Linked DNA regions of Homo sapiens. The protein of the gene in region 3 interacts with the protein of the main gene of each other region in a biochemical or structural test. Each region holds a gene or a part of one and is shown on either strand. Other genes may lie near its edges. The genes, in order: PPP1R9A, PREX2, DGKK, SYNPO2L, CARD14, PDZD8 and INTU.

Region 1 (3,500 bases), on a different chromosome or scaffold from region 3:
TCTCTGTTAATGACATCACTTTACCCGCTATTCCCTCCTTACCTACCCTTTTTTTCCCTTAAGTGCTTTGATGGCTATTCTAATTGTACTTCCTTGGATAGGTTTTGTTTACCAACCTCAGCTGGACGCAATCTCTCTCTCTTCTGAGCGTTGATATAATTGTACTCTATCTATACTTGCAGAGGCCCAATGCTTTTAATAAGCAATAAATCCTGTAAAGCTTTAAAAAAGCCAGTTTCTATTTACTAGACATTAATTCAATGAATATTTTTGAACACATCTTCTGGGTCAAATAATGTGTTATTAACCACACAAAAAATTAGAATAATAATCTCTAGTAATTGTGAGTAGAAAATTGATAGTGTTCAATTTACTTTATTTAATCTTGACTGAACAAAGGCCCAGTGCTATGTAAGCCTCGGGACCAAAACTTTAGTATTAGGTTGTTTATATAACAGGAACGAGGAAAATATTTTCATGCCTTCTACTGGCATATAACCTGTTTTACAAATCTCTAGAAAAAAATCTTTTACTTCCTCTAATTTGATATTCCGTTAGATGCTTATCATTTAGCCAGTTATAATGGGACTTCTCCATCCTAATTTCCACTGATGTCCCTCAGATATGAAAAAAAATGATTTGTAAATGTGGTATTGACACAATTCAGAAAATCGCCAACTCCTGTTAGGGTAACCAGAGCCTTATCCTCAAGCCTGCAATCAAACATGGCTGTAATTAATCATCTTTGTGGTAACTTGATAGACCAAAAGTAAAGGTATAACACTTTTTAAAAATTCTAGATAAATGGCAACCAATGATGAAGCCATTTTCAGAGTTTATCCAGCAATTTTGAGTATAAGAAAATATACTTCTAGACCAGGCATCAGGAAGCTTTCTTTACCTTTCAGGGGCCACAGAGTAAAATATTTTAGGTTTGTGAGATACACAGTCTCTGTCACAACGACTCAACACTGCTACTGTAGCATGAAAATAGATAGTATGTAAGTAAAAAAGTGTGACTGTACTCCCATAAGACTTCATTTACAAAAGCAGGTGGAGACTACATTCGGTTGATTATCCCTCTTCTAGAAGATCTGCACTGGTTACGTGGAGAGGTATATTAGCAATTCATCCAAGAACATTATTAAGTATCAATTATATGCCTGTGTTACTTTGATCTTCGTCTTTTTTTCCTATATGACTACGTTAGTGTTTACTGAAACTCTGGGCTGCTATTCTACAAAATCGCTCTATATTTTTCTATATGACTATGTAGTGTTTTTTTCTTTATGACTGTGTTAGTGTTTGTTGAAACTCTGGGCTGCCCCACTCCCCTGAAGAACTCCCTTGAGTAGTAAACTTATAGAGAGCTGAAGAGATAAAAATACTGAACCAGATAGGAAAAGATAAAACTAAATTAAAGTAAAATACATGGAGGGGTTGTTTCTCTTATTCTATAATATAAAAAGAAATTAATATTAATTATTAGCTATGAGAAAACAAATGACTTATGATTATGAGAAAAAGTCATTTTTATACTGTACAAGCTGAGGTGTTATGAAGTCAGAAAAAGAAATTAACAATACCTTTTTCTCGTAATATTTTCTTGTTGGTGGTTTGGTGATGGCAAGGAGATTCTTCCACATCATGATCAGACTTTGAAGTAGAAAACAGTGAAGTGTCTCCCCACATAGAGGAGAGAGGCCCCATTTCTGGGTCCAGTGGTTCTTCTTGAAATTCAGCTATGTGGTCAGACGAGAAGGGCACATTGCTATCCACCGGGGTGAGGGGTGGAACACCAGAATCTGATTCTGGAGAAGACGTTCTCAAACCCTTAGGTGGAAGTAATTTGGTAATATGCATGTGGTTATAGAAACTGTTTGATGGCTGTTGGTATAAGAGATTATAAGGAAGGTTATGCCACTGAGTATCAGTTCTATGCAATACTTACTTTGAAATAAGACCAACCTTTTATTAGTGAATCCCCATGAAAACCAGTTTTTGTTGATTTACAGATGAGAATGCATGGTTCATACCAATTCACCATATTAACATCGTCACTAATACATATACCTAAGACCTACAGAAACAATTACTTGTACGTTCATTATTTCCCACTAAGTAAAACCAATAGCTGAATATCAAAAGCACCATCATGAAATATGACAATACAGATAATGCTCTTGGTTAGTTCACTGAATGAATAGACAAAATATTTTGAATTACAACAATATAAAGAATTCAGGAGACAAAGACGTGAACTATTCTAGCTGCTTACCAACTAGGACATAGACTCTGTTTGCAGAAAAATCATAATCTTCAATAAGCTGTAGGAACAATGATATACTCCAACAGTACAAATCAGGAAACGGTCAAGGGTGCTCACCTTTCTCTCTAGACTGTCCTCCCCATCTGTGGAACTAACACTATCATACAGTCTTGTCCTAGAGGGTCTCTGGCGTCTGTTCTTCACAGAGAGCTGGGCTCGAGTTTTCAGTGCTTTTGAATCCAGGCGCTCTGTCTCTGGGACTGCTTCATTCAAGTCTAAGAATATTGAAAGATAATCAGTGAGAGAAACCTTTGGAGAGAACTGATGAAGAGACCACAGACACTGATAAAATCTCAAGGTAACCAGTAACATCAGGTAAGGATCAGGTGACCACCATGACAGCCTGTAACCAAGAAATAACCAAGAAATCAGTGGGGCTTAGGAGAAATATACAAAGTCAAAGGAAGAAACCAACACTAAAGATGATGAAGGCGCTATAAAAATCCAACATCCGAAAAGCATACAACCTTCCTGCAATATAATTATAAAAATCACTAATTTGTATTTACTATTTATGTGTATGCATGTTGGGAAGTTAGATGACCAAAGATATAGAGGAGGGTATATCAAAAGTTGACAGATCTTAGAAACCAAGGACAAAAAACCTACAAAGTCAGGTTTCCAGTTCAACTACAGGCAACAGAAGGTAACTATCATAAATTTACTGTAGCAAAATTTACTAGCAGTCTTCAGGTACTATATCATTTTCATTTTAATATATAATTTTCAACCCAAAACAGTTTCTGAAAATCTACCTTGTTCCTTTTTGAAACCTGTAGAAAGACCAGTGAGGAATTTACCTAATCAGCAAATTGACGATAGCTGGGGAAAAGAAACAAGGTCTGGCTACACAAATGAAGAAACAAACAGTTAAAAAATCGTAAGTACTTAGTTTACTAGTATTGTGGATGAGGTAGGATAAACATTTCCTTTTCTTTCATTAACATCTAACTTTGTATTACAAGTTATTTGTATGTGCCTCTGACTCATCTCTGTGAATACCTTCTCTCCCCACCAGAAACGACACTGATTTTCGAAGGGTAAATACTTAAGTCTTTAAATAAAAAGGCTAAAAGAAAAAGAGAGTAAAGTGGGACACAAAGAAAATGAACTATTAACAGCAAAGGCCACAGAGAGAATTCAATTAGTCCTCTTTAGCCTGGCTCTTACC
Region 2 (3,500 bases), on a different chromosome or scaffold from region 3:
ACCTGAACTCAGCACTGATCAAATGGTCCTGATAGACATCTACAGATATCTCTATCCCAATACAACAGAATATACATTCTTCCCATCACCACATGGCACATACACTAAAATCGATGACATAATCAGACATAAAACGCTTCTCAGCAAATGCAAAAGAAGTGAAATCATAACAACCACTCTCTCAGACAATAACACAATCAAATTAGAAATAAAGATTAAGAAATTCACTCAAAACCATACAATTACATGGATATTGAATAACCTGCCCTTGAATAACTTTTGGATAAATAGTAAAATTAACGCAGAAGCCAAGAAGTTCTTTGAATCTAATGAGAGCATTAGAAATTTCTATCTGAAAGATAAAATTGTTCAAAACAAAAAAGTGGGGGAGATGATTTAAGGATTTCTCCATTCCTAGCCAATATGCATTTACCTTAAAACAAATATAAAATCTCAAAGATGATGAGAACAACTGCAGAATTATAGTTTCTAGTAGTGTCATAATACTGGCATCTATTCAGCAGAAATGTCTTTTACTCAGTAAAGTATATACTTAAATTTCTAAAACATAATAGTTTTTCAAAAATGCATTTAACATTTATGCTATTCATATTTTGGGGAATTTTAAATTCAGACTTTTCATTAAATATTATGTTATAAAGTATCACAGATAAACATTACATTAGGCCATAAAATAAAAATATAGCCAAGAAAACCAGCTGTCAAATACACGATTTTATCGCAAGATAGAATCACTATGATTTATTTGGGGAAGTATTCCATATCTGTACAAATTTCCTTTCTACTAATCTCTAAACATAAGTTGTTATATTTGAGTATAAGTCTATGCAGAAGACTTAGTAATCACAGAACATTTAAGCCATCTCTGTCATTTAATAAATGTGGAAGTTGAAGCCTAAAAGAGTTAAGTGACTAACTCAGACTCCATTTGATATAAGGGGTTGTCTTTTGTCAGCAAAATTTACAGCTCTCTTTAATTTACCCCACTTAAGGTAATAACTGCAGTTACACTGTAATTCTGTTAAATACCATTGAATACTATTGACCACAACCAACTGACAAACAAATGACTGAAGAATAAAAATGTAAACACAGGAATAGTATTTATTGTGTGGGTTTCTCGACCTTAGCACTATTAACATTTTGTATCAGAGAATTCTTCCTTGTAAGGAACTGTCTCATACATTCTAGAATGTTCAGCAGCATCCCTGGCCTCTATCTAGAGGTCAGTAGCACACCCACAATTGTGACAACCAATACCTCCAGATGTTGCCAACCACTGTTCTAATCACTGGGAAGAAAATTTCTGAGTTATATATTTTTACAACTAGGTGAATTCTCATTTTATCTTTTCCACCATAATCATTTTTGAAACTCTCAGAATTTTCACTTAATCACACTGATTCTAAACAACATGCAATCTATCTCAATGAAGTCGTCTCAAAGTCATATATCTCCAATTTACAGGTTTTACCAATTATAGAATGTCATGTAAATAATGTTATGGTAGTTAATAGCAATCAACTTAGACAAACACTTCTGATATAAAAACTTAAAAATCAATGATGCAACCTATGTGATTATTTTGATTCTCATACAGCTTCACAACTGATTTTTTTTTTGTGGATAAACTTTTGCTTCATGCCTTTTTGTAAATCCTTCAGAATTTGTTTATGATATTGTCTCCTTTTATAGAGTCTTAAATTCTCTTCACGTTCTATTTGTCTTCATAACTTTGAGCCCTTATTTTATTCACTGAGAATATTCTCCATGATGTTTATAACCTTGGGACACAAGACCCTATAATCTTATTCCTTCTTGCCCTCTTCCTCCCTCACCATTTTCAGTACTTTTATTTTCTTCACAAAAGGAAACACTGCAAAAAATAATCAGGCATTACCAAACTTTTGGTTTTAGTGGGTTTTAAATTGATTATTGCTAATATCATGCAATGTTCTTTGCTTTTCATGCTGACCTTCAACAAATTTCCTGATGTTCTGAGCAAGAGTCCGGACGCTGCTGGGAAGATTCCAAGGATCTTGCTTGATATGAAGCCGTAGCCTTTTTGGACAACTCAGCTTTGGTTCCATTTCCTGTTGAAATTCTAAATAAACACAGAAAATCTCTCTTAAGTCTCAAATAATTCCTAAACAATGAAGCCTTTAGGCTTCAAAACCTTCTTCTGTCACTGTTGTCCTAGACTATTGACATGGTGGTCATTTCTTTTGCCACACCATCAGAAAATCCGTTAAATGTAAAAAGTCAAACCTTCATGTTATTTTCTTATAAATGTTTAAACGAAGCAAATTTAGATGAAAACTCTACTTTCATTATCCCAAACTAGTTACTTGTCAGAGTGGCAGCTCCATCCTTTCCATTCATCAACTCTCATTCCCCACACCCTTTCCTCACCACTGGGAAACAGCCAAGAAGACATTACGCTTGGTTTCAGCAAAATCAACTTCATGTTTATGTATCTTCAATTAACTTATTTTTGCTCAGCCTGGCCCCTATAGGCATTAAACATTTTAAACTTTCAAAGAAACAGACATGTAAAAATTCCTATGCTGACTTTTTTACATATTCAAAAATTATCAGAATAGAAGTAGTGTTTGGTGAATTATGAAACATGAGTAACTGGAATTGTTCCTCTTATGCAATCTGCTTGCTTCATGACTATATTGTCTACCACCTTGTTTTTCTCAATTGCTTCTACTAGTTAATTTTTCAAGGCTTACCTTGCAATCCTCGGCCTGGAGTGAGATACTTGGTTTGGTCAAAGGCCCTCACAACAGCCTGCCCTTTTAGGAGATTGGTAATTGAATCCACCTATCAATAGTAGAGATTTCCGAGTTACATATTTCTCATAGTACATGATACGTATTTCTAAAAGTAAATCTTATAAAATATTTTTTCTTAAAGCAACAATTATTTTTGAAACCCCATGATGCTTGTGAAATCGATCTTTACATAAAATATTGAAATAAATGCACCTGATAACATTTGCAATGACATTTCTTACTATCTTACCATATATTAACACAAAATATAAATTTACTGTATAAGTTATTGGAATCCTTTTCAAAGTGGTAAAATCTTCTACTACAAATTTTGGTTATGGCTATAAATTTTGTTAATGTAAAACAACAAAATTAGCATCCAAGGCAATATCTTGTGCTTTTTAAAATTAGAAATAATATTGAGCAAGAAATATCATAAAGCTTTCTGAAAACAAAAAAACAAAAAAAAATACTAAAAAGGGTAACTCCTATGTGTATAACAGTAATTTTCCCAGGACTGTAAAATACTTGATATTCACAAAAATCCTTTAGGTTAGTTGGCTGAAGGAATGTTGATTCCTAGTTTAAATGTCAGAAATTGAGGTAAAGGAGGTGGAAGGACAGATTGAGGCCTTTCTGTTCTAACTCTGAGCTCCTTTTACTGCATATGAAAAAGGGACTCCTCACAGTTTAGTTGTG
Region 3 (3,500 bases):
CTCTTGAGAGTCCTGGAAGTCCAGCTGGGGTTGAGGGGCAGCTTGAATTTCAGTATGCTTGTATTCCCACATTTTCATTGAGTTCTCAAAGTCCTGGAGATGAATACAGTGGCATATCCTAATGATTGCTGTAGCTACTAGTGCACATGACAGATCTGTCTGTGAGCCTGACGTTTGTGGGCAATGGGTATGTGGGTACAGTGGGTAGAGGGGAAGGAGGGCCCCCTGTCCATTCCCCCTGTCATACCCATCTATATACCTATACAAGTATCCATCATTTTATTCAATCTCTTCTGGACTATGCCCTTTAGTTTTTGTTGTTCTGAGTATGCTGGATTTTGGGACACCAGGCTTGGATCATACACATGTCTGGTTTCTAGAAGCTCCCATATGAAGGCATCATGACTGACAAGACAGTGGAGCACCTTTCATGCTCCCTTCTTTGCCAAATGTAGGCAATATGTGGTGATGCAGTTTAGAGCCAAACATATCTAATTTAATTTTGAATCGTGTTTCTGTCATTTACTAGTTGTGTGACCATTAGCAAATTATTTAACCTCTCTGGTCCTCATTTTCCTCATCTGTAAAATGGGAATAAGTGTATCCACCTCATAAGATTGTGGAGAGAACCTACATGAGAGAAATGTAAAATGCCTAGCACAGAATAGGCAGTTTATAAACTGGACTTCTCTTCCTTTCTCTATTGCTGTTTCCATGGACTTTTCACAGGTTAGAGTGCAAGATAACCTCCAAGCATTGAATATGTGATCAATAATAGCTCCTTTATAAGCTTTAGAAGCTTTAGCTGAAGTGGATGACATGTATTAATGCAGCATTTTAAGGAACCTTAGAGACACCTAAAGACCATGTTCAATGCAGAATCTGTTGCTGAAGGAGAAGATTTTTCCATAATCATCTGACGCTTTTAGCTCTCTTTGCAGTGGAAAGAGGAGGATAACCTTGTCGAAAACCAGGGGAGGAAGCTCCTTGTCTCACTCTCTTGGACAGTGTTTGCAAATGTCAGTATATATCAGAGTGTCTTGAGGAGCCTGTTTGCAAATTTGGGTTCCTGGGAACTATGCAACCCTATGTGGTTCAGTGGGTCTGGTGTGGGGGCCCAAGAATGCATTTATAACCAGCATCTCAAGTGACTCTGATGCCAGGGGCACACAGACCTCCTTTTGAGGAATTCTGCTTGAGTGGAAATATTCAGTACTCAAGTGACTATGGATGAGGCAGTATAGGAGCCCAAGACAAGATTTTCCCCCTTACCCGATCTCTTGTCAGCATCTGGGCAGCGTTCTTGTATCTAATTTTGATAAGGCCTGGTCTCTGAATCCAGGCCTCCCCATCCACCTGCACTGGGATACCTTCTTCACCATCAATGGTTATCATCACCTCATGGCACTGCCAGAGAAAATGAGGAAGAATGGGAGAGAAAAATGGGGCAACTGCTGTAACTCTATCTGATAATCTCATAGTTATGGCCTTGAATGTGTATCTGAAGCAGGACTGGAAAGGATGTGAATCAGATCATCCCAGGAAGAAATGCCTGTTTCCTATGGGCTTTTTGCTCCATTGGCTTCTGCCACCTCTGCCTCCAACCTCAGTCAGCACTTTACTGCCCACCAGATAACCTGCTCACTCCACCCTGGCATTCTTCTACCCAGTTAATTCCTGGGACTATCCCACATCCTGGGTAGCAGTCAAAAACCTCAGCCCCTTCCCAGTGCCCACCCAGCCCCTGCCTACCTGGGCAATGCGATGATGATGCAGGTTGATGATACGGGACATTGCCATCTGCACAGAACCAAAGATTGCCACCACCTCCAGTTTCCCATCATCGATTGCAGGAGCCTCATATTCCTGAGGAGGAAGAACTGTGTCACATCTCCCACCCTTGAGAAATCACACCCTGTCTATAACAAGAAGGCATGTTTAAAGGCTCCTGGTGAGAATTTTTCTAGCTCATGAAGAGTGGAAACACTTCATTATTAAAAGGGAAAAAGATGAGGTCAGAAAGCCAATCTGGGAAAAGGGTACTGCACTCTTAGCCAGTTCCCTCCTTTTCCAATCCAGCATCATAAATACCTGAGGCCAGTCTTATTGGCCTTATGACCTTCTTGGGTAAACTCAGAGTAAAGGGGTCATGGTCAGCATCCCAGGAGATTTTACTGACAGAATTCCTTGGAGAAAAGAGCATGGCCTTGGCCGGGCGCAGTGGCTCACACCTGTAATCCCAGCACTTTGGGAGGCCAAGGTGGGTGGATCACCTGAGGCCAAAAGTTCAAGGTCAACAAGCCTGGTCAACATGGCGAAACCCTGTCTCTACTAAAAATACAAAAATTAGCCGGGCATGGTGGCTGGCGCCTGTAATCCCAGCTACTCGGGAGGCTGAGGCAGGAGAATCACTTGAACCTGGGAGGCGGAGGTTGCAGTGAGCTGAGATCTTGCCACTCCAGCCTGGATGACAGAGCAAGACTCCGTTTCAAAAAAAAAAAAAAAAAAAAAGCATGGTCTAGATAGCCTTTAAAGGATCTGTCAGACCCGAGGAATGGAAAATCCAAAGCCCAGGCAACACCTACGAGTTGACCTTATCCTGAGGTCTTTGGTTGAATTTTCTGCTTTCGGATGGTAATTGCCTGAAAAACTGATCATACAGCTGCTGCTAATAAAGGTTCTCGGACCACCTCCTCTTCTCCCATTGTCTATTTTTCACTTCAGTTAGCACAATGCTTCCTTCAGAGAGACCTTAGTGGGATCATGCCTTTCTTCCTCCCCATTCCTTGTTCCATACTAACCGTGGTTGCTGTGTTGCTTCCCCAGAAGTTGATACCTCCAGCATAGCTGGTAATGTTGAGCACTACAATGCCTTGCAGGTTTGGCAAGGAGATGGTTTCTCCATCACACTGAAAGAAAAGAGTAGCTCTCATTAGCTGGATCTTTAGATAGCAACATGAAGGAACATTTACAGAGATGGGGAAAGGGCTCTGTCTTCTCTTCCATTACATGGAAATCTATCTTCATGCCTTCCTCCCATGAGCTGTGAGGATCACAGAGTTAAAGCTCAGGAAGAATCAGCATGTACGGTATTCCCAAGGCCATGAGATTTCCTTTCTCCATACCCAGGAAAGACTACCCGCTTTTCCACTAACCTCCAAATGCACTCGTTCTTCCAGTTTCCTGTAAGAGCGCTGCAAAAGTTCTTTGGTTCCCAGAAGGCCATACCACATCTTGTTCTTAAGGCGGCTACTACATGGAGGTAAGCATTAAGAAAGCAGAGGGTGAATGATATATAGATAAATGGTGGAAAAAGACAGGAAGGAAAACCATCTTACTTCTCAAATGCCTTCTTACAGAGAGGAGTCATGCTAAATGGCAACTGGACAGCGGTTAATGTAACTGATATCCAATGCAAACACTTGAAGAAATGGGTTCCTGGGCCCCTTTGAAGCCTCAGTATCCTATCAATAAATAAATTTTCCATTTCTGCTTGCTAC
Region 4 (3,500 bases), on a different chromosome or scaffold from region 3:
TGGGGACAGGAGGGGTAATGAGTAGAAGGGGAGCATAATTATTCTCATGGCCACCATTATTTTTGCTGTTTGAACCAATGTGGCAAAAGGGTAAGGTGATTCAGTTCAACCCAGGAACAGGGTAAGTAGGGAAATTGGAAAGGGACACAAATAGATGAAGGGTTTGGTGGTGGTGATAATTGTTATTGTGTGTCATGATTGGGTGAAAGCAGAGTACAGACACAGGACAGGGGAGTATTTAAAAGCAGGTTGAAGGCGGGGCAAGGTGGCTCATACCTGTAATCCAAGCACTTTGGGAGGCTGAGGTGGGAGGATAGCATGAACGCAGGATTTTTGTTTTGTTTTGTTTTTTGTTTTTTTGAGATGGAGTTTGGCTCTTGTGCCTAGGCTGGAATGCAATGGCGTGATCTTGGCTCATTGCAACCTCCGCCTCCCGGGTTCAAGCGATTCTCCAGCCTCTGCCTCCCGAGTAGCTGGGATTATAGGCACCCGCCACCACACCTGGCTAATTTTTTGTATTTTTAGTAGAGATGGGGTTTCACCATACTGGTCAGGCTGGTCTCGAACTCCTGACCTCAGGTGATATGCCTACCTCGGCCTCCCAAAGTGCTGGGATTACAGGCGTGAGCCACCATGCCCGGCAGAAGCCAGGAGTTTGAGACCAGCCTGGACAACATCGTGAGACTTCGTCTCCAGTAAAAATTTTAAAATTAGCCAAACACTGTGGCACATGTCTATGGTCCCAGCTACTTGGGAGGCTGAGGCAAGAGGATTGCTTGAGCCTGAGAGGTTTGGGCTGCAGTGAGCCATGTTTGCGCCACTGCACTCCAGCGTGAGCAACAGACCAAGACCCTGTCTTAAAAATAAATAAATAAATAAATAATAAAAATTAATAAATAAAAGTGGGTCAAAGCTACAGGGGTTCTTTTTTTTTTCTGGTTTTTTTTTTTTTTTTTTTTTTTTGAGATAGAGTCTTGCACTGTCACCCGGGCTGGAGTGCAATCTTGGTTCACTGCACCCTCCACCTCCTGGGTTCAAGCAATTCTCCTGCCTCAGCCTCCCGAGTAGCTGGGATTACAGGTGCCCGCCACTACACCTGGCTAATTTTTTGTATTTTTAGTAGAGACGGCGTTTCACTATGTTGGCCAGGCTGGTCTCGAACTCCTGACCTTGTGATCCACCCGCCTCGGCCTCCCAAAGTGCTGGGATTGCAGGCGTGAGCCATTGGCCAAAGGATTCTTTATAGTATTAATAGCAGGCACCTTTGACATTTGCAAGTTCAGTTCGGATTCCTGGGGACTGAGAGGCTATGGGATGATCATGAGATCCCGAGGAAGTGGCAGAGGGAGGGAGCTTTGGCTCCTTATCTCAGGCAAGAATGTTGGCCTGGGCAGAAAAAGCCCATTCCACTTATCTCAGGCTTTGCTATTTTTGATGTGAGCTACAGAACAAGGTCTAAGGGTAAACGTTCTCCCTGCTCTATGCCTCCCGTGCTTTCCCACAGAGACCGTTCTTGTTACCTCCAAAATCTCATGATTCCCCCTCTAGTTATATTTCTTCCCTCTCCTCCACCATTTTGATTCCTGATCTATAGAACTTTGTGTCTCTCAGTTTGGAGTGGAGGCTAAGGACATGAGAGTTGAGAGTCTGACATCCCTGAGTGTCCAATATCCCAGGAATTCCAGATGCGTGCCTAGGATCCTATGCTTTCCTCAATTCTCCACTTATCTCCCCCTCCCTTCCCATAATGCTGGATGAGACTGTAGCTACTGGCTCAGAGATATTTTTAGTCAAGCAGACCTCATTGTCTACTGGGGTGGGGTTGGGGGAAGGGAAGGCAGGTGCCCACATCCATCACACCGGCACTTGTGGGGCAGCCCAGAGAAGGGAGAGGGCCAGGCTCCAAAAATAGCACAGTGAGCTCATTCAGCTGCCAGCTCTGGGGACAAGACAAAGGGGCTTTAAAAGGCGTGGGGGGTGGCTCAAGCTGGTCCTGCTCCAGCCAACACCGCCTTTCTCAGCATGGAGACCTTTGAGCCCATCAGCCAAGAGCCCCTCAGCCAAGCCAGCTATGACAAAGCCCCAGACCCAGTTCCTGAGCTCCAAGACTCGTTCTATGCAGGTACTACCCTCCCATATCTATGAGAGTCTGGGGTCTAGAATGGAGGGGAAGATGTCAATAGTTTAGGAAGGGTAGTCTTTGGGAAAGGTCTTACTCTCTTGTTCCTTTTTGCTGTCCTCTTCCTCCTTTTCTCAGGAGAGTTTCACTGCCCCTTTCTCAGTGATGCTGTGGTCACATGTCAAAGGGGTTTCTGACCACAAGAGCTGTAGAAAACTCATGGGAACAGAGCGTGTGTGAGTACATTATGAATACATGAAGGCATGTATGTGTGAGTCATGGGAGAAGATATGTGTGAACAAGAAAGTATCCATATATATCAAGAAAGTATAGTGTCAAGAAGACTTCAATAGTAATGGTTATAGTGGGCCTTCACACTGTGTTAAGTGCTAAATTTACTATATTATCTCAGTTAATCCTTATAGCAATCCTATGAGGTAGCCATTGTCTACCCTCATTTACAGATGAGGAAACCGAACTTTAATGAGGTGAGGTAACTATCCCAGAAACCAAAAACCTGAACTGAACTCTGACTCTAGGGCCTGTTGTCTCATCCATACCACTATTCTGTGGTATAAACACTGGGATGAGAGGAATGACAAAAATGAAAAAGTTCCATCTACTTTCCACTCAAGATACCACGCTCATTACAAAGGAGCTCATTACAAAGCTCATTACAAAGGAGCTCATTACAAAGGAGCATGGTACCTTGAGTGGAAAGTAGATGGAATCTCAATAATTTTTCAGGAGGAACTGGGGACCATGGACCAGAGAGTATCCATGTGCAAGGCGGGGTCCTCGCAGCAGGGTAGCCCTCCCATTTCCTGGCCCCACCTACCCAGGCCCCACATGGCATGGAAAGCCCTGCCCTGGTTCCCTTTAGCACATAGTCTTTGTGTGCCTGGCTGGCAGTGGCTGCCTGAGCTCTCTACGTAGAGACAGTTCTGACCCCTGAAGAAGCCCACCCCACTACCATCCCCAGCTTGGGGTAAATAATATATTTAGCTGGCGACCTTGAGGTATCCTAAAGATTTGGAGTGTTGCCTTGGAGAACAACACTCTAACTTTTCCTGCATCTTGGATGGAGACTACCCCTGACTGTGAGTAGCAGGGGTGTGAAGCCCAGAGGACTGCCCTGGCAGTTGGAAGGCCGAGATCAACTTTAACTTCTGTCTAAACTGTTAGTAACAGGGTCTCTGCAGGGAGGTCTCTGGGAAGAAGGGCCACCTAGAGCATGTAGGTGTGTGAATGTATTTGAGTGATGGTGTTTTGATGTGCACACATGTGTATTTACATAAGTGTATGTGAATGGAGCTGTATGTAAGCTGGGGTATATGTGAATGAGAGAGAAAAGTAAATAGGAGAAAGTACGCCTACAGTT
Region 5 (3,500 bases), on a different chromosome or scaffold from region 3:
ACCACCACAGCCGGCTAATTTTTCTATTTCTAGTAGAAATGGGGTTTCACCATGTTGGCAGGCTGGTCTCGAACTCTGACCTCAAGTGATCTGCCTGCCTCAGCCTCTGAAAGTGCTGGATTGCAGGCGTGAGCCACCGCACCAGGCCTAAACAGATTTCTTTACAATCTACCACCATGAACAGCAAGCATTAGCATTGGTGAGGAGTGTTCCAGAATCCCTCTGCTCTCTGCCTCTCCATTTCTCTCCCCCTCTCTTTCTCTCTCATGCACACACACACACACACACACACACACGCGCGCGCGCGCGCGCGGAATGACAGGACAGACTGATCGGCAGATTGGATGAATGGATGGATGGGCACATAGATTGAGGGACTCCCAGAGATAAACTAACACCATTTTATAAAAATGGTATCATATTCTACATGATTGAAATGTAAACTTTTAATTTTACTTAAATTTTAGTTCAGCTCAGATGTTGCTGGCAAAAGTTTTTTTTTATTATTTTTATTTTTTATGTACTGCTCCTTGAGGAGCTGGGCTAACTCATAGGCAGTGCATCCAGATTCGGCATTTTTTTTTTTTTAGATGGAGTCTCGCACTGTCACCCTGGCTGGAGTGCAATGGCACAATCTCGGCTCACTGCAACCTCTGCCTCCCAGGTTCAAGTGATTCTCCTGCCTCAGCTTCCCAAGTAGCTGGGATTACAGGCACACACCACCACACCTGCCTAATTTTTTGTATTTTAGTACAGATGGGGTTTCACTATGTTGGCCAGACTGGTCTCGAACTCCTGACCTTATGATCTGCCCACCTCGGCCTCCCAAAGTGCTGGGATTACAGGCGTGAACCATCGCGCCCAGCCAAAAAATATTTTTTAATTGTTAAAAATAATAATGGAATGCCAAATGTAGTAGAACAGTTTCACAATGACAAGAACTATTAGTTCCTAAAAAATCCCCAAGATTCAGATAAGAGATTACAAAAACCTTGATAAATTAGTGACATTATGTAAAATCAACAGTGCTGGGTTTGGTGGCTCAGACCTGTAATCATTGCACTTAGGGAGGCAGAGGCGGGAGGAGTGCTTGAGCCCAGGAGTTTGAGAGCCTGGCCAACATAGCAAGACCCCATTCTCCACAAAACGGAAAATACAATAAAATAAAATCAGCGTTTTGTTTTATTTTATTAATTTATTTGAGATGGAGTCTCGGTCTGTCTCCCTGGCTGGAGTGCAGTGGCGTAATCTCAGCTCACTGCAGCCTCTGCCTCCCGGGTTTAAGCGATTCTCCTGCCTCAGCCTCCCAAGTAGTTGGGATTACAGGCATGTACCACCACACCCAGCTAATATTTGTATTTTTAGTAGAGACAGGGTTTTGCCATGTTGGCCAGACTGGTCTGGAACTCCTGACCTCAGGCGACCTGCCCGTCTCTGCCTCCCAAAGTGCTGGGATTACAGGCGTGAGCCACGTCGCCTGGACTTCCTTTATTTTAGATAGCACAGGGTCATGGAAGATAAAGTGATGCCTTCCTTCCCCTACCCCCTACCCCGATTTCTACTGCTTGCATTATTTCTTAGGGTAAAGAATCTTCTTATTTGGCTGGAAGACTCTATTCCCACCGTAGTTTAGTCCTGGATGTGTGATTAAAGAAATCCAGTGGTTGCCCTGCGCTGAGAAGGACAGCCGGGCCTGGGTTCTCTCCTGGCTCAGTACAGCCCCCTCCCCACTCCTGCTGAGGACTCCCAGGGAAGCTGGAGGCAGCTCTGGGGCGTTTTCTCTGACTTCCCTAGACTTCTCTTCAGCTGCCCAAACAGTAGAGGGATGCTGAAGCCCTCTCTTCCCGCAGTCTGTCCCTAAGGGTTGCGCTGGCACCTGTGCCCCCAGTGCCCCTTGGCAGCACTCCTTTGGTTTCAGGGCTTGTCTGCCATTTTTCTTTTTTCTTTCTTTCTTTTTTTTTTTTAAGACAGGGTCTCAGTCTGTCATCCAGGCTGGAGTGCAGTGATGCAATCTCATTTCACTGCAACCTCTGCCTCCCGGGCTCAAGTGATCCTTCCACCTCAGCCTCCCAAGTAGCTTGGGGACCACAGGCTCACGCTACCATGCCCGGCTAATTTTTGTATTTTTTGTAGAGACAGGGTTTCGCCATGTCACCCAGGCTGGTCTTGAACTCCTGGGCTCAAGCGATCTGCCTGCCTCAGCCTCCCAAAGTTCTGGGATTGCAGGTGTGAGCCACCATGCCCGGCCTGCTATTTTTCAGTTTGTGGCAGAAAAGTTGTTTTCCTTTCCTCATTTTGTGGTTGCTGCTTTATTCACTTATTTATTTTTTTAACTTTTTAAAACGCAACATTTGGTTCATTTCACCAGGAGCTGGGGAGGGAGGTACAGGAGGCTGCCCTGATCCTTTGTTGGGTTTGATCTGGAGACTTTGACGTGACAGAGCGACTGCGCCCACTGGTTGTCCTCTAAGAAGGCGTGAGGGGAAGCCCAGACGCCTCTGCAGGAGCCAGAGACATTCCTAGGGGGTCACAGGGTCAGCTGAGGTGAACAGGGATTCTGGAATGAGGAAGCCAAGGGGATGGAAGGGAGGAGGCTGGCAGGGAAACGCCCAGAGCACGTGCTCCTGCCCGACACCTCCAGGCAGAGAACAGGAGCTGGCAAGAGAGGAACCCCGCTTGTGGTGGGGACGCTGAACAGGCAGGGCCTGGCTGGGATGGGGGCCCAGCCTAGGCTGAAAACGAAGAGAAAGGAAAGTGGGTGCCGGTGTCCCACGCACTGTGGACCCCCAGCCCTGGCCCTGGGGTGGCAGGGGCAGAACCGGGCACTGCAGGGACCTCCTCAGCCCACCCTCCTCCTGCTTCCTGGCAGGGATGAGAGAGGGAAGCAGGAGGCAGGGTGGGATTGCCAGCTGCTCTCGGATCGTTTTTTTTTTTTTTTTTTTTTTTTTTTTTTTTTTTTTTTTAAAAACGGGATCGTGCTATGTTGCTAGGCTAGTCTTGAACTCCTGGGCTCAAGCGATCCTCCTGCCTCTGCCTTCCAAATTACAGGCATGAGCCACTGCACCAAGCCTGGATCTTTTTTTTTTTTTTTAAACAACTTTGTTGAAATATAACTCACGGCCAAACACAGTGGCTCACACCTATAATCCTAGCACTTTCGGAGGCTGAGGGGGGAGGATCACTTGAGCCTAGGAGTTTGAGACCAGCCCAGGCAACATAGTGAGACCCCCTTCTTTACAAAAAACAACAACAACAAAAAAAATGAGCCTGGCATGGGGGCACATATCTGTATTCCCAGATACTCCGGAGGCTAAGGTAGAGGATCACTTAAGCCCAGAAGACGGATGTTGCCGTGAGCTGAGATTGCACCATTGCACTCCAGCCTGAGCAACAGAGCAAGACCTTGTCTCAAAAAAAAAAAAAAAAAAAAAGGAAGAGCTATAACCCATACGGCACACAATTCACCCGTTTAAGATGCTTCTAGTGTATTCACAGATGTG
Region 6 (3,500 bases), on a different chromosome or scaffold from region 3:
TCGCTTGTGGTCGTGGTGGCACAGGTGGTTTGAAAGCAGATCCTTGGGTTGGTTTTGACACTTGTGCTGGGTCTGTTATCTCAGAAGTTTTTAGGGGTGGAGGTTTATTTCCATCTTTGGACTGAATTTTCGGTGGTAGTGGGTGACTTCCTACAGCTAATTTACGGTTTAAAACTGGTGATATAGCTCCAAGGGGTTTAATAGAAAGTGTTGTTGGAACACGTTTGGGACTATGACTTAATGATTGTGCCTCATCTTTGAACTCATTTTGTGCTCTGACATCACTTGCCAAGTCTTCAAATTCAGAATCCAGCTCTCTACTTTCAGTATCTACTGTCAACCCGGCAGCTTCCTCTTCATAACCCGATTGGCATGAGCTTGACAAAAAGTTTTCTTCCAACTGGCCAAAGTTATCTTGCAGCACTGCACCTTGATTACTCTGGCCAACAGGCCTTTCATAGTACACCAGGACTCGGTCACCAGCCTGCTTGATAAGCTTCAACACTTGCAGTGTTGATGTGATTTTCACACCTGGTTTAAGATTTTAAAAGGGAAAACATGTAAATTATTGCAATAGAAATTACTACATTTGTTAAATGTATTTAATTAAATATATATAATTGCCATTACCTCTGGTTATTTAACTAATAGAAGAATAATAGGAAAATCTCAACAATATTTTATTTGGCTTTTGGATGAATCAGTGTGCTAATTCTCAAACCCTGAATGTGCTGATATCCTGGAGATGTTTACCTTTTCAAACCAGATGATGACACAGGATCCCAAAAAGAGTGCCAGGATGCTAACTCCTAATTGCTTTCTATCTCTTCTTAGGTTAGATGACATCTCTCAGTTTGAACTGAAGAAGTGAACAGAGAGAGATCTATTTAAAGGATTCTATTAATGGCTAAATCAGACTTAGAGTGAGGGAAAGCTGTGATTCCACTGAAGGAAATTCTAAAATACTCCAGGGATTACAAGACATATGATGAAAGATTCAAATTAAGAGAGCAGTGCTTGAAAATAATGTAGCAAAATACTATACTATGAATAACGTACTTTTACAGATTCTTTTTATCAACCGTACCCATCACATTCATCTTTTTCAAAACCAGAAAGAACAAGTAAGGGATAAACTGCTTTAAAGTTAAACAAGCTGGTTACTATCTGCATCTGTAATATCTACGTTGTTTTTATTTTTCTTATTTTTTAATTGTTACACGTAGTTTAAAATTTGAAAGGTATAAAGGTATAAAAAGATGTACAGTAAAAAATATTCTTTCCACCTCTGTCTCCCAGCCATACTGTCCCTTCCCTGACCTTAGTAGCTTCTAGTGTATGCTTCTATAGATATTCTAGGTGTGTTAGCACTTAAAGGTGCTACTTGTTTCCTGTCACTCTTCCCACACTCTCTAAAACAGCACTTGCCCAAGCTATCCCTTTATGTAGAACTTAGAGAAAGAATGAGAAGGCTCTTTGTTTTCCAAAGATCTTAGGGCCATCCTAAATAAATCTAAGTAACACCACCCCTTTCTCATAACTTGACTTCAGGTTTCCTCAACCTGTGTCCTCTCTTACTTCAGCTGTCTGGGAAGATCAGGCTTTAGACTCGGTCATCACTTGGAACTTGTCCACATCAAAGATCTTTCATTTTCAATTAGTCTCTGATCACAAGCTCCTATTTTTCACCTCTTACAATCCTGTCTGCTCACTACTTTTAGGCAACTTCCCGGCCCAATCATTCCTCTTTTCTTCTCATGGTCCTGTTGGTCTCCTGATACCACTTGCTCTTCTATCCAACCCTGTGTCTCAAGATTACAACGATGTTCTTACCAATATTTTATTTTCTCGTCCTCATGTTTTTTGATCCCCAGCTTTACTAGCCCCACTATTGCCCTTTCCTGCTCTTGAGCTTGCCGCTTGGATCTAGCATCAAGTTAGCCATCCATCTTTGGCAAGGTGTTCAGGGCTGCTTAGCATTCTTTTGATCAGTCTGTAAACAACTAAGTCTCTCAAACATCAGCTGTAAATCTTTCCTGTTTCCCTAAAGTCTACTCTCCCTACTCTCTTTTACTCTGTGCATGCTATCACCTTATTTGCCAAAAAGATCAATATGAAGCTACCTTTTCTCCCTACCATCATTTTTAGTATTATCTTACTTCAGAGGAGAAAATATCCCTCTATCTGTATACTTACTTTGGATCCAATCCTCCTGTCTCCTTCCTGACTTTGCTCTATCAATTATCCTTAAACTTTTTCTTCCTTTTCTTTAAAATTTTTCTTTTTCTTAGTTTCCACAACACTTTACACAATTGGTTCTGATCACCTCTCCTCTAGCTTCTTTTTCTCCACCTATACCACCTGCACCTTATATGCAACTGTTACCAAAGTTTGCCACTAGTTCTCTCACCCTTTTTTGCTCTCTCCCTGGTAAATTACAGCCACTCCAGTAGTCTCAAAAACTATCAACTTTTTCTTTGGTTTCCCTTCTTCTTCACTTTAGTTCTACATTCCCAACTACTGGACATCACCACCTGGATGTTCCTTTGGGACTAAATATTCAGCAGAGCTAAAACCTTTCTTTGACTGTCTCTCTGTCCTCACTACTATCAATCAACTTGCCACTCCCAGTTAACTCAATTTGAATCCTAGGGATATTTGACTCCCTAGAAACATTCAGCTGTCAACTCAAACTTGTGATTTCAGCCCATTTTCCTTCCCTGTTCAGATCCTCCTGATAACTGGCCTTCACTTTAGTAATAAACAGCTTTTAACTGCAATCTCTCACTCAGACCTTCCCTACTTTAAACACCAAACATATTGCTACGAAATTTTCCTAAAGCATTTGCCCCTTTAGCCTACAAACTTATCACATGGAAATTCAGAGCTTTCTAATATGGTGCTTCATTATTTATCTAGCTTTAAGTTCTACTACGTCCTTCTAACCATACTATGTCTCAGCAAAATTATAGTTTGACATATGCATAAATGAAAAATTAGTCCATCTAATGATCTACAGTAGGCAAAAACTTCAACTCAATCTGAACTCATTTTTTATGACTAAAAATCTGCCCTCGTCTCATCTATTCCTCAGTCATCAGGTGTTTTGTGGAGATGGCCATTGCAACTCTCTCTCAGGAATACACCATTCAAGTCTGGATTTTTCTTTTGGAATATTTCAAACACACTCAAAAGCTGAGGAAACAGTAAAATGAATTCCATTTTGAGCTTCAAATATAATATTTTGCCAATCTTATTTCAACTATCATCAATTATATACCCATATAAATGAATCAAAGCGATATAAAAATGTTTTGAAAAATATCTGTTGACATGGGGAAAGTTTACAACATGCTAAAAGAAATAAAGACTATTACAAAAATGCATAGTTTAGAAATTTTTGTTTCCTAAACAAAAATTGGGAAAGGCATATATTTATGTACAGAAAAAAACAAACAAACAAAAAAACAAAAAAAGAGACATACAAAAGCTTTTCTGTT
Region 7 (3,500 bases), on a different chromosome or scaffold from region 3:
ACAGATTTTAGTTCATGGTGAAGTGAATGTTTCTTTTTTGAAAACTTATGTAAAAGTCTGTTAAAGCTGGCTTTAGCTTTCATTTTAACCTGACAGCCATCCTAAATAATTTCTATGCAAATAATAGATTTTCATGTACAATTTCCAAATGGCATGCTTGTGTGGATATAATTGCATAATCAACTGCTAATGCAAATTATCATTCAGTGAAATTGTTTAAAGTGAGCAGTAACCACACAGTGGTTGATTTAATTTTTTTCAACTCATAGATTCTATAAGGGGACCATCTCTTTTTTCATTGGTTTTCCTTTCTATTGCTATGCCTTTTTGATTCCTTCTCCCCCAACTCCTATTCAAAGCTCTACAAAAAAAGCATCCTATATGAAATAATGTTGAGGATCACAATAAATTAGAAATAGTAAGGATAATTTGAAATAATAAAGAAGTTTCACCCTTTCCCATCTTCCTGCTCCCCAGCCCCAACCCTCACCCCCATGCCAGGATGACATACCTTTCTTTTATATATTGGGCTGCTATTAAGATTATCTTTTCTCTCTTTCATAGTGATCTTGAGCCTGAATGGCTGGACAGTGTGCAGAAAAATGGAGAGCTGTTTTATTTGGAATTGAGTGAGGATGAAGAAGAAAGCCTCCTTCCTGAGACACCAACTGTGAACCATGTCAGGTTCAGTGAAAATGAGATTATCATTGAAGATGACTACAAAGAAAGAAAAAAGTATGAACCCAAACTCAAGCAGTTTACCAAAATTTTAAGAAGGAAAAGACTTTTACCCAAGCGCTGCAATAAAAAAAATAGCAATGACAATGGACCAGTATCCATTCTAAAGCATCAGTCCAATCAGAAGACAGGAGTCATTGTCCAACAGCGATACAAAGATGTGAATGTTTATGTAAACCCCAAAAAGCTAACTGTTATCAAAGCCAAAGAGCAGCTCAAGCTTCTGGAAGTGCTGGTTGGAATTATTCATCAGACCAAGTGGAGCTGGAGAAGAACCGGAAAGCAGGGTGATGGAGAGAGGCTTGTGGTTCATGGCCTGCTGCCAGGGGGATCTGCTATGAAGAGCGGTCAGGTACTCATTGGTAAGTGTTGCTGGTACACATCCATCCCTGTTTACAGAGATCTTGATTAATGATGACACCTTGCGGGAAATGTGATAAAAACAATTATATACAGTCTCCACAGATAAAGAACTGATTAATGACATTTGGTACAGTAGAGAAATGGTTACACATGGTGCACTACAAGGCACAGTGTTCTTAAAATGACCAGTTCAGTGTGTTGAGTATGTGTGTGCCTTGTTCAGGCCAAGAAATAGCTTACCTAATTTTCAAGTTTTGAATTATATAATTTTATTTCATCTTGGTTATATTTGCTGACAAGAAAAAAAACGTTGATCATAGAGTGATAATTTAGGTTTGAATGGCTATATCCAGTAACAGGATACAAAAATATATAATTTATGAATAAAAATACTTTTAAATTGTATGTTTGCACTTGAGTACACTAAGTTCTTGGAGTGGTTTTCAACTGTTTCATTTGGCATATTTTGCAACAGTGGTGTTATATATAAATTTCCTTTTAAGGGCGTGTGTCATAAAATATATCTGTCATAAAATAGCCCACCAATTTTCAAGAAAAATAAACCCACAAATTATTCTGAATATATATTAAGATGAACATTTTGTGTTGCTGATAAATTTTAAGCTGTTAGATACAATGTTTGAGTTAGTAGCAATCTAATTACTTAAAGATAAATGAGTAAAATTTGAGGATATATTATTACTAAAATTTAAAAGTAATAACAGTTCTAAAAGCTGACAGTCTTTTAAGTTTATCTAGCATAAGAGGTTTAAATGAAGAACATTTACAGATAAATTTACAAATATTTCCAACTTTAAATCTGAATTTCATTTGTTTGTTCACTGATTTGACAGTTTGTTTTTTTAGCATCTGCTAAGTGCCAGGAATACAAAGATTACTTTACTGATCCAATTATTTCTTGAAAGGAGCTATGTTTTAGTGGAAGAGACGGGTTACAGATAGGCAGGCAGCTCCTCACTGTCTGATAAGTGTCATCATAGGGGTTTACAAGGAGGATCATATGGAATCTTGTAAGAAGGGCATCTGTGGCAAAGTATGTGTTCCAGAATGATCTCAACAGGATCTGCACACTTTCTTAAAATGTAGTGTTGATACTCCTCCCATGGAGAGTTGTGCTCTGTGTCATTGAATCTGGGTGGGCCGGTGACTACAGCTTAATTGGTGCCATGTGACTTAAGAGGTTGGATCATAAAAGGTGATGCAGCTTCTGCCTGGTTATTTTGGGGATACTTGCCCTTAGAACCCAGTCACCATTGTGTGAAGAGGTCAAGACACCAGTGATCCAGCTGATAGCCCCAACTGAAGCCCTCGCCACCAGATGTGAGTGAGAAGCCTTTAAGATGACTCCAGCCCCAACCACCATCTGCCTGTAACTGCATGAGGAATCCCAAGTGAGAACCACAGCTGACCCCAGTTAACCCCAGAACCAGGAGAGATGATAAATTATTGTTGTTGTTATTTTTTTATTTTTTATTTTATTTATTTATTTATTTATTTTTGAGATGGAGTTTTGCTGTTGTCACTCAGGCTAGAGTGCAATGGCACCATCTTGGCTCACTTCAACCTCTACCTCCCGGGTTCAAGCGATTCTTCTGCCTCAGCCTCCTGAGTAGTTGGGATTACTGGCACCCACCACCATGCCTGACTAATTTTTTTGTATTTTTTAGTAGAGATGGAGTTTCACCATGTTGGTCAGGCTGGTCTTGAACTCCTGACCTCAGGTGATCCACCCGCCTCAGCCTCACAAAGTGCTGGGATTACAGGCGTGAGCCACCGTGCCTGGCCAACTGTTGTTGTTTTAAGCCTCAGAATTATTTGGATAGGCCTGGCGTGGTGGCTAACACTTGTAATCCCAGCACTTTGGGAGGCCAAGGTGGGCAGATCACTTGAGGCCAGGAGTTTGAGACCAGCCTGGCCAACATGGCAAGACCCCGTGTCTACTAAAAAATACAAAACTTAGCTGGGCCTTGTGGTGCATGCCTGTAATCTCAGCTGCTGGGGAGGCTGGGGCACGAGAATCACTTGAACCTGGGAGGCAGAGGTTGCAATGAGCCAAGATTGTACCACCGCACTCCAGCCTGGGGGAACACAGTGAGACTCTGTCTCAAAAAAAAAAAAAAAAATTGTTTGGATGACTTATTATGCAACAATAGATGACTGGAACAGGGGCTAATACATACTTACATTCTCTTGGGTCCTCTACTTTCCTTCTTGTGAAATGATAGGATAGAACTAAATATCTCTATGGTTTGTTCTTTTAGTTCTGTAAAAGGAGCCAGAATTCATTTAACGTGCCCCCCTTTCAGTGGTGTTTCCTGTGAGTTGGTAGTTAGATCTTGAGGCCTATCAAACATATTTTATAGGTGGTCTGTGTGCTT

What was found.
Region 1: the proteins of DGKK (region 3) and PPP1R9A interact in a test that uses a peptide from one of them, tested with the Homo sapiens proteins (one large-scale study listed by IntAct).
Region 2: the proteins of DGKK (region 3) and PREX2 interact in a test that uses a peptide from one of them, tested with the Homo sapiens proteins (one large-scale study listed by IntAct).
Region 4: the proteins of DGKK (region 3) and SYNPO2L interact in a test that uses a peptide from one of them, tested with the Homo sapiens proteins (one large-scale study listed by IntAct).
Region 5: the proteins of DGKK (region 3) and CARD14 interact in a test that uses a peptide from one of them, tested with the Homo sapiens proteins (one large-scale study listed by IntAct).
Region 6: the proteins of DGKK (region 3) and PDZD8 interact in a test that uses a peptide from one of them, tested with the Homo sapiens proteins (one large-scale study listed by IntAct).
Region 7: the proteins of DGKK (region 3) and INTU interact in a test that uses a peptide from one of them, tested with the Homo sapiens proteins (one large-scale study listed by IntAct).

Annotation. Positions count from the first base shown.
Region 1 is NC_000007.14:95,267,594-95,271,093, reverse strand, and holds part of PPP1R9A (neurabin-1), read right to left. Parts: intron 2,545-3,500; coding exon 2,387-2,544; intron 1,888-2,386; coding exon 1,587-1,887; intron 1-1,586. UniProt on the Homo sapiens protein: Binds to actin filaments (F-actin) and shows cross-linking activity. Binds along the sides of the F-actin. May be involved in neurite formation. Inhibits protein phosphatase 1-alpha activity.
Region 2 is NC_000008.11:68,119,546-68,123,045, reverse strand, and holds part of PREX2 (phosphatidylinositol 3,4,5-trisphosphate-dependent Rac exchanger 2 protein), read right to left. Parts: intron 2,851-3,500; coding exon 2,760-2,850; intron 2,126-2,759; coding exon 1,997-2,125; intron 1-1,996. UniProt on the Homo sapiens protein: Functions as a RAC1 guanine nucleotide exchange factor (GEF), activating Rac proteins by exchanging bound GDP for free GTP.
Region 3 is NC_000023.11:50,376,826-50,380,325, forward strand, and holds part of DGKK (diacylglycerol kinase kappa), read right to left. Parts: intron 3,253-3,500; coding exon 3,156-3,252; intron 2,910-3,155; coding exon 2,802-2,909; intron 1,867-2,801; coding exon 1,753-1,866; intron 1,408-1,752; coding exon 1,273-1,407; intron 94-1,272; coding exon 1-93. UniProt on the Homo sapiens protein: Diacylglycerol kinase that converts diacylglycerol/DAG into phosphatidic acid/phosphatidate/PA and regulates the respective levels of these two bioactive lipids.
Region 4 is NC_000010.11:73,649,530-73,653,029, reverse strand, and holds part of SYNPO2L (synaptopodin 2-like protein), read left to right. Parts: intron 1-1,989; exon of another isoform or gene 1,990-2,022; coding exon of another isoform or gene 2,023-2,122; intron 2,123-3,500. UniProt on the Homo sapiens protein: Actin-associated protein that may play a role in modulating actin-based shape.
Region 5 is NC_000017.11:80,173,030-80,176,529, forward strand, and holds part of CARD14 (caspase recruitment domain-containing protein 14), read left to right. Parts: 5' UTR 1-199; intron 200-3,500. UniProt on the Homo sapiens protein: Acts as a scaffolding protein that can activate the inflammatory transcription factor NF-kappa-B and p38/JNK MAP kinase signaling pathways.
Region 6 is NC_000010.11:117,284,941-117,288,440, forward strand, and holds part of PDZD8 (PDZ domain-containing protein 8), read right to left. Parts: intron 860-3,500; coding exon of another isoform or gene 831-859; exon of another isoform or gene 754-830; intron 532-753; coding exon 1-531. UniProt on the Homo sapiens protein: Molecular tethering protein that connects endoplasmic reticulum and mitochondria membranes. PDZD8-dependent endoplasmic reticulum-mitochondria membrane tethering is essential for endoplasmic reticulum-mitochondria Ca(2+) transfer.
Region 7 is NC_000004.12:127,642,957-127,646,456, forward strand, and holds part of INTU (protein inturned), read left to right. Parts: intron 1-564; coding exon 565-1,100; intron 1,101-3,500. UniProt on the Homo sapiens protein: Plays a key role in ciliogenesis and embryonic development.